Regions from separate parts of the Homo sapiens genome. Here region 2 is linked to region 1. The links come from fine-mapping of genetic effects on gene expression. A gene starts in region 1. The other region holds a variant in brackets. All regions are shown on one strand. Distances are from middle to middle. Region 1 holds the start of HEATR3 (HEAT repeat containing 3). Region 2 overlaps HEATR3 (HEAT repeat containing 3).

What was found. PIP is the estimated chance that this variant, and not a neighbour inherited with it, causes the effect.
Region 2: its variant is the best candidate, but not a certain one, in a credible set for the expression of HEATR3 in testis (GTEx, PIP 0.80).

Annotation. Positions count from the first base shown.
Region 1 is chr16:50,064,017-50,068,409 of GRCh38, reverse strand. HEATR3 (HEAT repeat containing 3) reads right to left here and starts at 2,440. Exons shown (of 15, transcript NM_182922.4): 1 at 2,141-2,440; 2 at 1,871-2,043. The coding sequence starts at 2,278. HEATR3-AS1 (HEATR3 antisense RNA 1) reads left to right here and starts at 2,086. Exons shown (of 3, transcript NR_186390.1): 1 at 2,086-2,357; 2 at 3,603-3,719. RefSeq lists silencers at 1,718-1,977, 2,058-2,107, 2,438-2,487 and an enhancer at 2,338-2,632.
Region 2 is chr16:50,091,021-50,095,413 of GRCh38, reverse strand. It overlaps HEATR3 (HEAT repeat containing 3), which reads right to left. Exons shown (of 15, transcript NM_182922.4): 12 at 621-709. Among named protein-coding and RNA genes, the nearest start is that of HEATR3-AS1, 27 kb to the right of the region's middle. The variant T/G (reference allele first, on the strand shown) is at 2,634.

The DNA.
Region 1 (4,393 bases):
CCAGCACTTTGAGAGGCCTAGGTGGGAGGATCAATTGAGCTCAGGAATTCAAGACCAGCCTAGGAACAGCGGGAGACCCCGTTTCTAAAAAAATAAAATAAAATAAAAAGCGAACTGCAAGGGCAGCAAGGTGGGGCTACTGAGAATGACACCCCCTAAAGCAGCCCTGGGTAAATTTTAATTGGAAAGACATGACTTCCGAGTACACAGCACTGTGCTAGTCCCTAAGGATATGGAGATAGTCAGAAGATGCCCTCACAATGTGCCAGGATCCCCCAGCCTCTGTATGCTGTGGGAGGAAGGGAAGGGCTTTCCACATGCTGTTTCCTCCCTAAAGGAAGAAGAGCGTCTATCCCCCCTCCATCAACTGGTGAATGCCCATTCATTCCTCCGAGCTCACCTCAAGCACCACTCACTCAGTCTTCTTCCCTGAACCCTTTGTTTGTACCCTCTTTTAGCACCCTTTGTCATTACCATTCATTGTAATCATACACTTATGTAACTGTTTGGTTAATGCTTGTCTCCCTCAATACACTTTAAGATTTCTTAAGGAGAGACATTGCCTTGCTCATTACCCCATGCCCACAGCTTAGCTCAGTGTCTGGCACACAGTTGGCACTTTATACATATTTGCTATATCAGTGAATGAAATATAAATAACAAACAGAGACAGAGCTGTAAGAACTACAAATACTAACCTCTACTCTTGCCCCCTCTGCAGTCCATTCTCTGCACAACCAGCAGAGTGGTCTTCACAAAATGTGTTGCAGCATGTCACTTCCCTGCTTAGAGTTAAGTCCTCAGCCCTACACCATCGTACAGCTCATCCCTCTCTCCAGCCTCACTTCCTGTAATTACCCACCCCTGCTCTTCTCAGCCACCTACCTACCCTCTCTGCTGTTTAACCACGTCAAGCTGCCTGCTGCTTCGCTTCTTTGCTGTTGCTGCTCCCTTTGTGGGGAATATTCTTCCCCCTATTTTCCCATGCCTCCTGGCTCTCTCACCCTGCACATCTCCTTTCACAAGTCATCTAAAGAGCACCTTTTTTTTTTTTTGAGACAGGGTCTTGTTCTATCACCCAGGCTGGAGTGCAGTGGTGTGATCATAGCTCACTGCAGCCTCGAACTCCTGGGCTCAAGCGATTCTCCTACCTCAGCCTCCTGAGTAGCTGGGATTACAGGCACCCACCACCATGCCCGACTAATTGTTTATAATTTTTCTACAGACGGGGTCTTGCTATGTTGCCCAGGTTGGCCTTGGACTCCTGGCCTCCAGTGATCCTCCTTCCTTGGCCTCCCAAAGCAATGGGATTACAGGTGTGTGCCACCGCGCCCGGCCCAAGAGCACCCAATTCAAACTTCCCACCCCCAACTCATCATCATCTCGTTTTCCCACAGCAATTCTCACTATTTAATATTATGTTTTACCTTTTTACTAGCTTCCTGTCTGTCTCCCCATCAACATGACTTGTGCCAAGACAGGGATCTTGGCTGTCAACAGATCTCGCTCAAAAGTCTTGGCTGCTCAAAGTCCCCTGCATCTAGAACGATTCCTGACACATGAACTGAAGAGTTCATCCAAGCAAGGGACCCTAAGGAGGGCTTTTGGAGAGTGTAAAACGTGCGCAAGGCGTGAGGGCAGGACGCCTGAGCAGGTGGACGCTGCAGGTGAAGCAGCCAGGTGGACAGATGAGATGCGGGGATACTGGGCTTCTCCGGAGCCTGGAGACTGGCTTCAAATCTCTGCAAACGGGAGACCGGGCCAGTGCCTGATGGCACACAGAAGGCGCTGGGTGACCGCTGCGACCGCCCGCAGCCCAGACGCGGGGGAGGCCAGCGGTGGGCACCGCCCCGCACCCTTCCTGGCTCACCTCAGCGCGCCGGCTGCAGTCTCCCTGACGGCCAGGCTGGGGTCTAGCAGCAGCGGCCCGAGGCGGCGCACGGCGTCTCGTCGCGCCAGGCCCGGGAGTGCCGGCCGCTGCTGCACCAGCCGGGCCAGCCCTGCGCAGGCGCACTCGCGGACCTCGGCGCTCGGGTGCTGGAGCTGCGGATGAGAGCGAAAAGGGTCAGAAGGCGCGCAATGCGCACGCGCGCGGGGCAACCTCGTCTCGCCTCCCGGCCCGACGGAGCCCTCGCCTCACCTTTTCCAGCAGCTCCGCCGCCGGCCCGTCGTCCTCCTCGCCTCCGGTCCCATTCGCCGCCGCAGCCGCCTCGGCCTGACAGTCGCCCGTAGGGGAGAACTGAGGTCGCTTGAAGCGCTTCGTCCGGCTCTTGCCCATGGTGACGTGCGCTGGGCGGACAGACCACCGAGAGAGGAGGGCAACAGCAGGCGGTGGAGGCTGCCGCGCCGTTAACAAGGTCCGTTGCTGCTGCTCAGCTGGGCCGGCTGACGGCTGCAGCACACATGGGCAAGCCGTGCGCAGGCGCACGGCGCGTCGTCTGCCGGGTCGGGGTTGGGGCGGGGCGGGGTGGGGGGAACTGGCGCACGGAGCGCGCAGGCGTGGAAGAGGGCATAGGCGGGGCCAGCTTCGGCAAAGGGGCGGAGCCTTGTGGGTTTACCGGGTAAGTAGGAGGTTGGACTAGAATAGTAACGCCGACCCGGGCGAGAGGATCACTTGAGGCCAGAAGTTCGAGACCATCTTGGGCAACATAGGAAAACACTCCACTCCCTGTCCTCCCCACCAAAAAAATTAAAAATTATCTGGGCATAGTGGCGTGTGTGTGTAGTCCCAGCTACTTGGGACGTTGAAGCCGGAGGATCACTTGACCCCAGGAGTTTGAGGCTGAGGTGAGCCGTGATCCTGCTACTGCACTCCATCCTGGGCGACAGAGCGAGACCCTGTCTCAATCAATCAATCAAGCAACCAATAAGTTAGTAACACCGGCTACAAATAATCAAATGTGATTAAGAATACCTAACTTGCAAGGTTATTGTAAGTTCTGTAAAGTTCATAAAGTTCTGTAAAGTGCCTAACACCAAGCCTGATATATAGCAGGTACTCAAAAAGCATTAACCACGATTTTATTTTGTGTCCCCAGCACCTCCCATAGCTCCTGTCGTAGACAGAGACTAGTTAATGTTTTGGAACGAATGTGTGTCTATATTTGATAAAACAGAATCGCTTAAGAACCTAATCTCCCTGCCTTAGTTTCCTCATCAGTGAAGTGGGGACATCGATAGTATATACCTCATGGAGTTGTTACGAAGACTAAATGTGTTCATATGTTTAAGGTGCTAAGAACAGAGACTGGCAGATACTAAGCACTATGTAAATGTTTGGAAACGTATTTAACAAAGAGATTCTTTTGCAGATATTTGTTGAGTACTAGGTACAGTGCTGGGCATTGGAATAAAGCAGTAATCAAGACAGTTTGGTTCCTGTCCTCTCTCCCTGTCCTTATGGAATTTACAGTCCAGGGAGAGATCTGTTGAATATATAATTATATGAATAACTTTGGTTATAATTGTGGTAAATACTAAGCAGAGGGAAAAGTACAGGAGAATCTTAGGTGGTCTTTATAATTAGACATGTAACGAGTGAGTACTCAATATATGCATAGCTTTGGGTCAATTTTCTTTTTTTCTTTTTGTTTTTGAAACAGAGTCTCACTCTGCTGTCCAGGCTGGAGTGCAATGGTGCGATCTCGGCTTATTGTAACCTCTGCCTTGGAGTTCAAGCAGTCCTCCTGCCTTAGCCTCCTAAGTAGCTGAGATTACAGGTATGTGCCACCATGCCCAGCTATTTTTTTTTTATTATTATTTTTAGGAGAGACGGGGTTTTACCACGTTGGTCAGGCTGGTCTCGAACTCTTGATCTCAAATGATCTGCCTGCCTCAGCCTCCCAAAGTGCTAGTATTACAGGTATGAGCCACCACGCCCAGGCTCAGGTCAACATTCTACTGGAGAAAATTTCCATTCCATGGTAACCCTACTGTCAAAGAGTTGACTGTCCAGTAAGGGAAATTAATTACTATGGCAAATTTTAGAGAGTAACAGAAGTGTAGCTCATGTTGCATTTGGGCCTATCAAAGATCAATCTTGGGCTGGGCACTGTGGCTCACACCTGTAATCCCACCACTTTGGGAAGCCAAGGTGAGCAGATCACCTGAGGTCTGGAGTTCAAGACCAGCCTGGCCAACATAGCGAAACCCCATCTCTACTAAAAATACAAAAATTAGCCAGGCATGGTGGCATGTGCCTGTAGTCCCAGCTACTTGGAGGCTGAGCCAGGAGAATCTCTTGAACCTGGGAGGCAAAGGTTGCAGTGAGCCGAGATCACGCCACTGCACTCCAGCTTGGGTGACAGAGCGAGACTCCGTCTCAAAAAAAAAAAAAAAAAAAAAATCAACCTTGGAGCCACTAAATATATGTTGGTGGGTTTTACTTCCTGTA
Region 2 (4,393 bases), 27 kb before region 1:
AAAAAAAAGCTGGGTACGGTGGTTCACGCCTGTCATCCCAGCACTTTAGGAGGCCAAGGTGGGTGGATCACTTGAGGTCAGGCATTTAAGACCAGCCTGGCCACACGGCAAAACCCCGTCTCTACTAAAAATACAAAAATTTTGTGGTGACGCATGCCTGTAATCCCATTTACTTGGGTGGCTGAGGCACGAGAATCACTTGAACCCAGGAGGCAGAGGTTGCAGTGAGCTGAGATCATGCCACTGCACTCCAGCCTGGGCGACAGAGGAAGACTCTGTCTCAAAAAAAAAAAAGATTTAAAAAAAAGACCAATGATAGAGAAATTATTTACAACATATCTATCAATTAAGTTGTATTGATTAAAAAGCACTTGTTTTGCTAGTAAGCCTATATATTAAAAAATTTAAAAAATTAAATTAAAAGCACCTGTGTGTTGCTGATGGTAGGGAGCAGAAAGATATTACTTTTTATTTTAATCACTTTTGTTTTATTTTTTACAAAGATCACATATTATTCTTGTAACAGAAATATGTATTTTTTAAAATAGTGAAGTAATGAATTTTGCCTCCATAATACACAATCTTTACAAGTTTCATACAAAAAATTTTAAAACTCTTACCTGGGAAATGTTCTTGGAGGCCATTGTTTGCAAAAGGGCCCTCAAAGCACTACTTATGGCTTCTAGAAAGTCAACATGTTTAGCAAAATCTAAAACACAAAAATGAAATATAAAATTTGCATTTCTCCAAGATAGGCTATTTTGTAGAAGCAACAAACAAAACAAAGCATGCTAAATGTTAATAAATGCTATTCTTAATAAAACAAACAAACAAAAAAAAACCCTCGATATTTAAGCCAAAATATTTAGTTAACAGCCCCCTGTACACTCTATACCTAAGTCTGAAAGATGATCGTGGTTAAAATAATCACAGCAAGGAGGTGTTCTACAGACAGTCCTTGACTTCCAGACACTGGGTTTTCATTTGACTCACACTTCAGCACATAATAAACCTAAGCTAGCTTTTGCAGACTGAATTCTGTCATTCATAGATCTCCATCAGGGTGCTGGGTAGAACTACCTTTGGTGGAGTCAGAATGCTTCCTTGCCAACCCAAGCCCACTGCTTAGCCACACACTGTTGCTTGTGCAGAGCCAGGACATGATGGCACCATCACTTTAACTGACCCAGCATCCCCTTCCCACTCCTACTCCTTATTCGCACACTTTTCTTATTGTCCCTTCTTCCCACACGGGACAAACAGAACACCAGCAGTAAGCCATTATGCTGGCACAGGCACGTGCAAGGGACAGTGAGGGTCACCCAGGGGAGTTGGCTCCTTAACCTCTTTGATGGGAAGAGATTTGCTTGGTGTGGTAGACTGTATTTTCTAAAAATGGCCATGGCAATATTTCAAGTCCTGTGTGATCTTCAAGAACCTTGCCACTTCCCATAAAGATGTGAAATCTACTTCTCCTTTCCTTAAATCAGGGTGGGACTTTGTGACTTCTTCAACCAACAGAATACAAAGTGACGGGCTAGGTCACAAAAGGCAGTATGACTTCCAGCCCTGACGCATGTGTGCATGCTCTTTTTTCTCTCGACTTCCGCCCTGGGAACCCAGCCATCCTGTTATGAGGAAGCCTGCGTCACATGAAGAGGTCACTGTGGGTGTTCTTCCTGACAACCCCTGCACCAACTGCCAGACACGTGAGTGAACAAGACTTCGGATGATTCCAGCCCATACTCTGCGAGTCTTCCAGCAGAGGCCCTAGACTAGTATTTCTCAGCCTCTGCACTACTGACATTTTGGACCAGATAATTCTTCATTTTATGTGTGCGCAGGGGTCTCCTGGGCACCGTAGGATGTGAAGGAACATTCCTGGCCTCAACCCTCTAGACACCAGTTGCAATTTCCAAGTTGTAAAACCAAAAATACCTCCAGACGTTGCCAAATGTCCCCAGGTGGGAGGTGGGAGGGGATAAGTGGCCATGGTTGAGAACCACTGGCCTAGACATTGTGGAATAGGAAAAAGCCATCTCCACTGTGCCCTGTCTAAATTCTTGACCAAAGGAAACTTCGAGAAATAATAAATGATTGTTGTTGTTGTTAAGTCACAGAGTTTTGGAATAACTTGTTACGTAGCAATAGATACACTCACTTCCTGCCCCACAGTTCCTGGGACTTATACCATTCCGATCCCCCACTTTTAGGTTACCCGGGTAGAAGAGAGGCAGCTTCTGTTCAAATTCTAATCCCGGCTGATTGTATTTTTTGGCTCTTTCATTTTCAGATATGTATTATGTACCAAAATAGGGGATTTCCCGTAATGATCACAGAATAATAGGAGAGCTTTACACACTCAGCCCTAGGATAGAGAGCTGCCTTTGACATAATTATGTGACTCCTCCTGCCTTCATTTTAGTCTTGGCTCAAATGTTACCTCCTCACAGAGGCCTTTCCACACTAACTGGCCTAGTGTAACGCCTCATATCATTCTGCTTTTACTTTTTTCTTCATAGCTAATATCACATAAAACATTTATTTATACTAGAATGCAAACTCCACGAACATATTGACCTGGCCTATCTTGTTCACGCCTGCATCCCTACCATCTAGAACAGTGTATGACA[T/G]AAAGCATTCAATAAATACAAGCTAAAAGAATGACCTTGGGCCGGGCGCGGTGGCTCACGCCTGTAATCCCAGCACTTTGGGAGGCCAAGGTGGGCCGATCATGAGGTCAGGAGATCAAGACCATCCCTGGCTAACACGGTGAAACCCCGTCTCTACTAAAAATGCAAAAAAAAAAATTAGCCAGGCGTGGTGGCGGGCGCCTGTAGTCCCAGCTACTAAGGAGGCTGAGGCAGGAGAATGGCATGAACCCGGGAGGCGGAGCTTGCAGTGAGCCGAGATCGCGCCACTGCACTCCAGCCTGGGCGACAGAGCCAGACTCGTCTCAGGAAAAAAAAAAAAAAAAGAAAAAAGAAAAAAAAAAGAATGACCTGGAAGAGGTTCCTTAACCTCTCAGCTAAGGTTCCTAAATCTCAGCTTCCTCAGCAGGACAATGAAGTAACAAGGGCTGTCTCATAAAACGTGGTACCTAACAGGCACTCAAAAATCAGAGTGAAGTTGTTAATAGCCTGGACCTCCCGGGCTCAAGCAATCAGCTCCTGCCTCAGCCTCCCGAGTAGCTGGGACCACAGGCACGTGCCACCACGTCCAGCTAATTTTTCTTGTATTTGTAGAGACAGGGTCTCATCATATGTACAGGCTGGTCTCAAACTCTTGAGCTCAAGCAATCCACCCGCCTCAGCATCCCAAAGTGCTGGGATTACAGGTGTGCACCACTCCGTCCAGCCAATTTGTTGCTATTAAACTTCAAAAAGTTACCATATTGACTGCAAAGTGTATATATGATTAAAGCTCTAGGTATAGCCCTATAAAATTATGAATTTATAGATTTATGAATTGCACACAAAGAGGTGATTCAATGTCTTTACTCTCAACAACTTTGAACGATATTTTTTTTTTTTTTTTTTTGAGACAGAGTCTCGCTCTGTTGCCCAGGCTGGAGTGCAGTGGTGCGATCTTGGCTCACTGCAAGCTCCGCCTCCCAGGTTCATGCCATTCTCCTGCCTCAGCCTCCCGAGTAGCTGGGACTACAGGTGCCCGCCACCACACTTGGCTAATTTTTTTTTGCATTTTTAGTAGAGACGGGGTTTCACCATGTTAGCCAGGGTCTCAATCTCCTGACCTCATGATCTGCCCGCCTCGGCCCCCCAGAATGCTGGGATTACAGGCGTGAGCCACCGTGCCCAGCCAACTTTGAACAATATTTAAGAATTTGTAGCATGTCTAAATGTAGGTACATCATCAACCCACAAGTAATTATACTCAGGTGAATTTTTCAGACTGATTTAAAATTTTTTTATTATTATTATGTTTTTTAGACGGAGTATCACTCTGTCGCTCAGGCTGGAGTGCAGTGGCAAGATCTGGGCTCACTGCAACCTCTGCCTCCCGGGTTCAAGTGATTCTCCTGCCTCAGCCTCCCAAGTAGCTGGGATTACAGGCATGCACCATTACGCCCGGCTAATTTTTGTATTTTTAGTAGATATGGGGTTTCACCATGTTTGCTAGGCTGGTCTTGAACTCCTGACCTCAGGTGATCTGCCCACCTTGGCCTCCCAAAGTGCTGGGATTACAGGTGTGAACCACCACTCCCAGCCTGAATTTTTTTTCTTATTTTTAATTAATTAATTTCTTTTTTGAGACAGAGTCTTGCTCTGTCACCCAGGCTGGAGTGCAGTGGTGCAATCTTGGCTCACTGCAATCTTCACCGCCCAGGTTCAAGGAGTTCTCCTGTCTCAGCCTCCCAAGTAGCTGGACTACA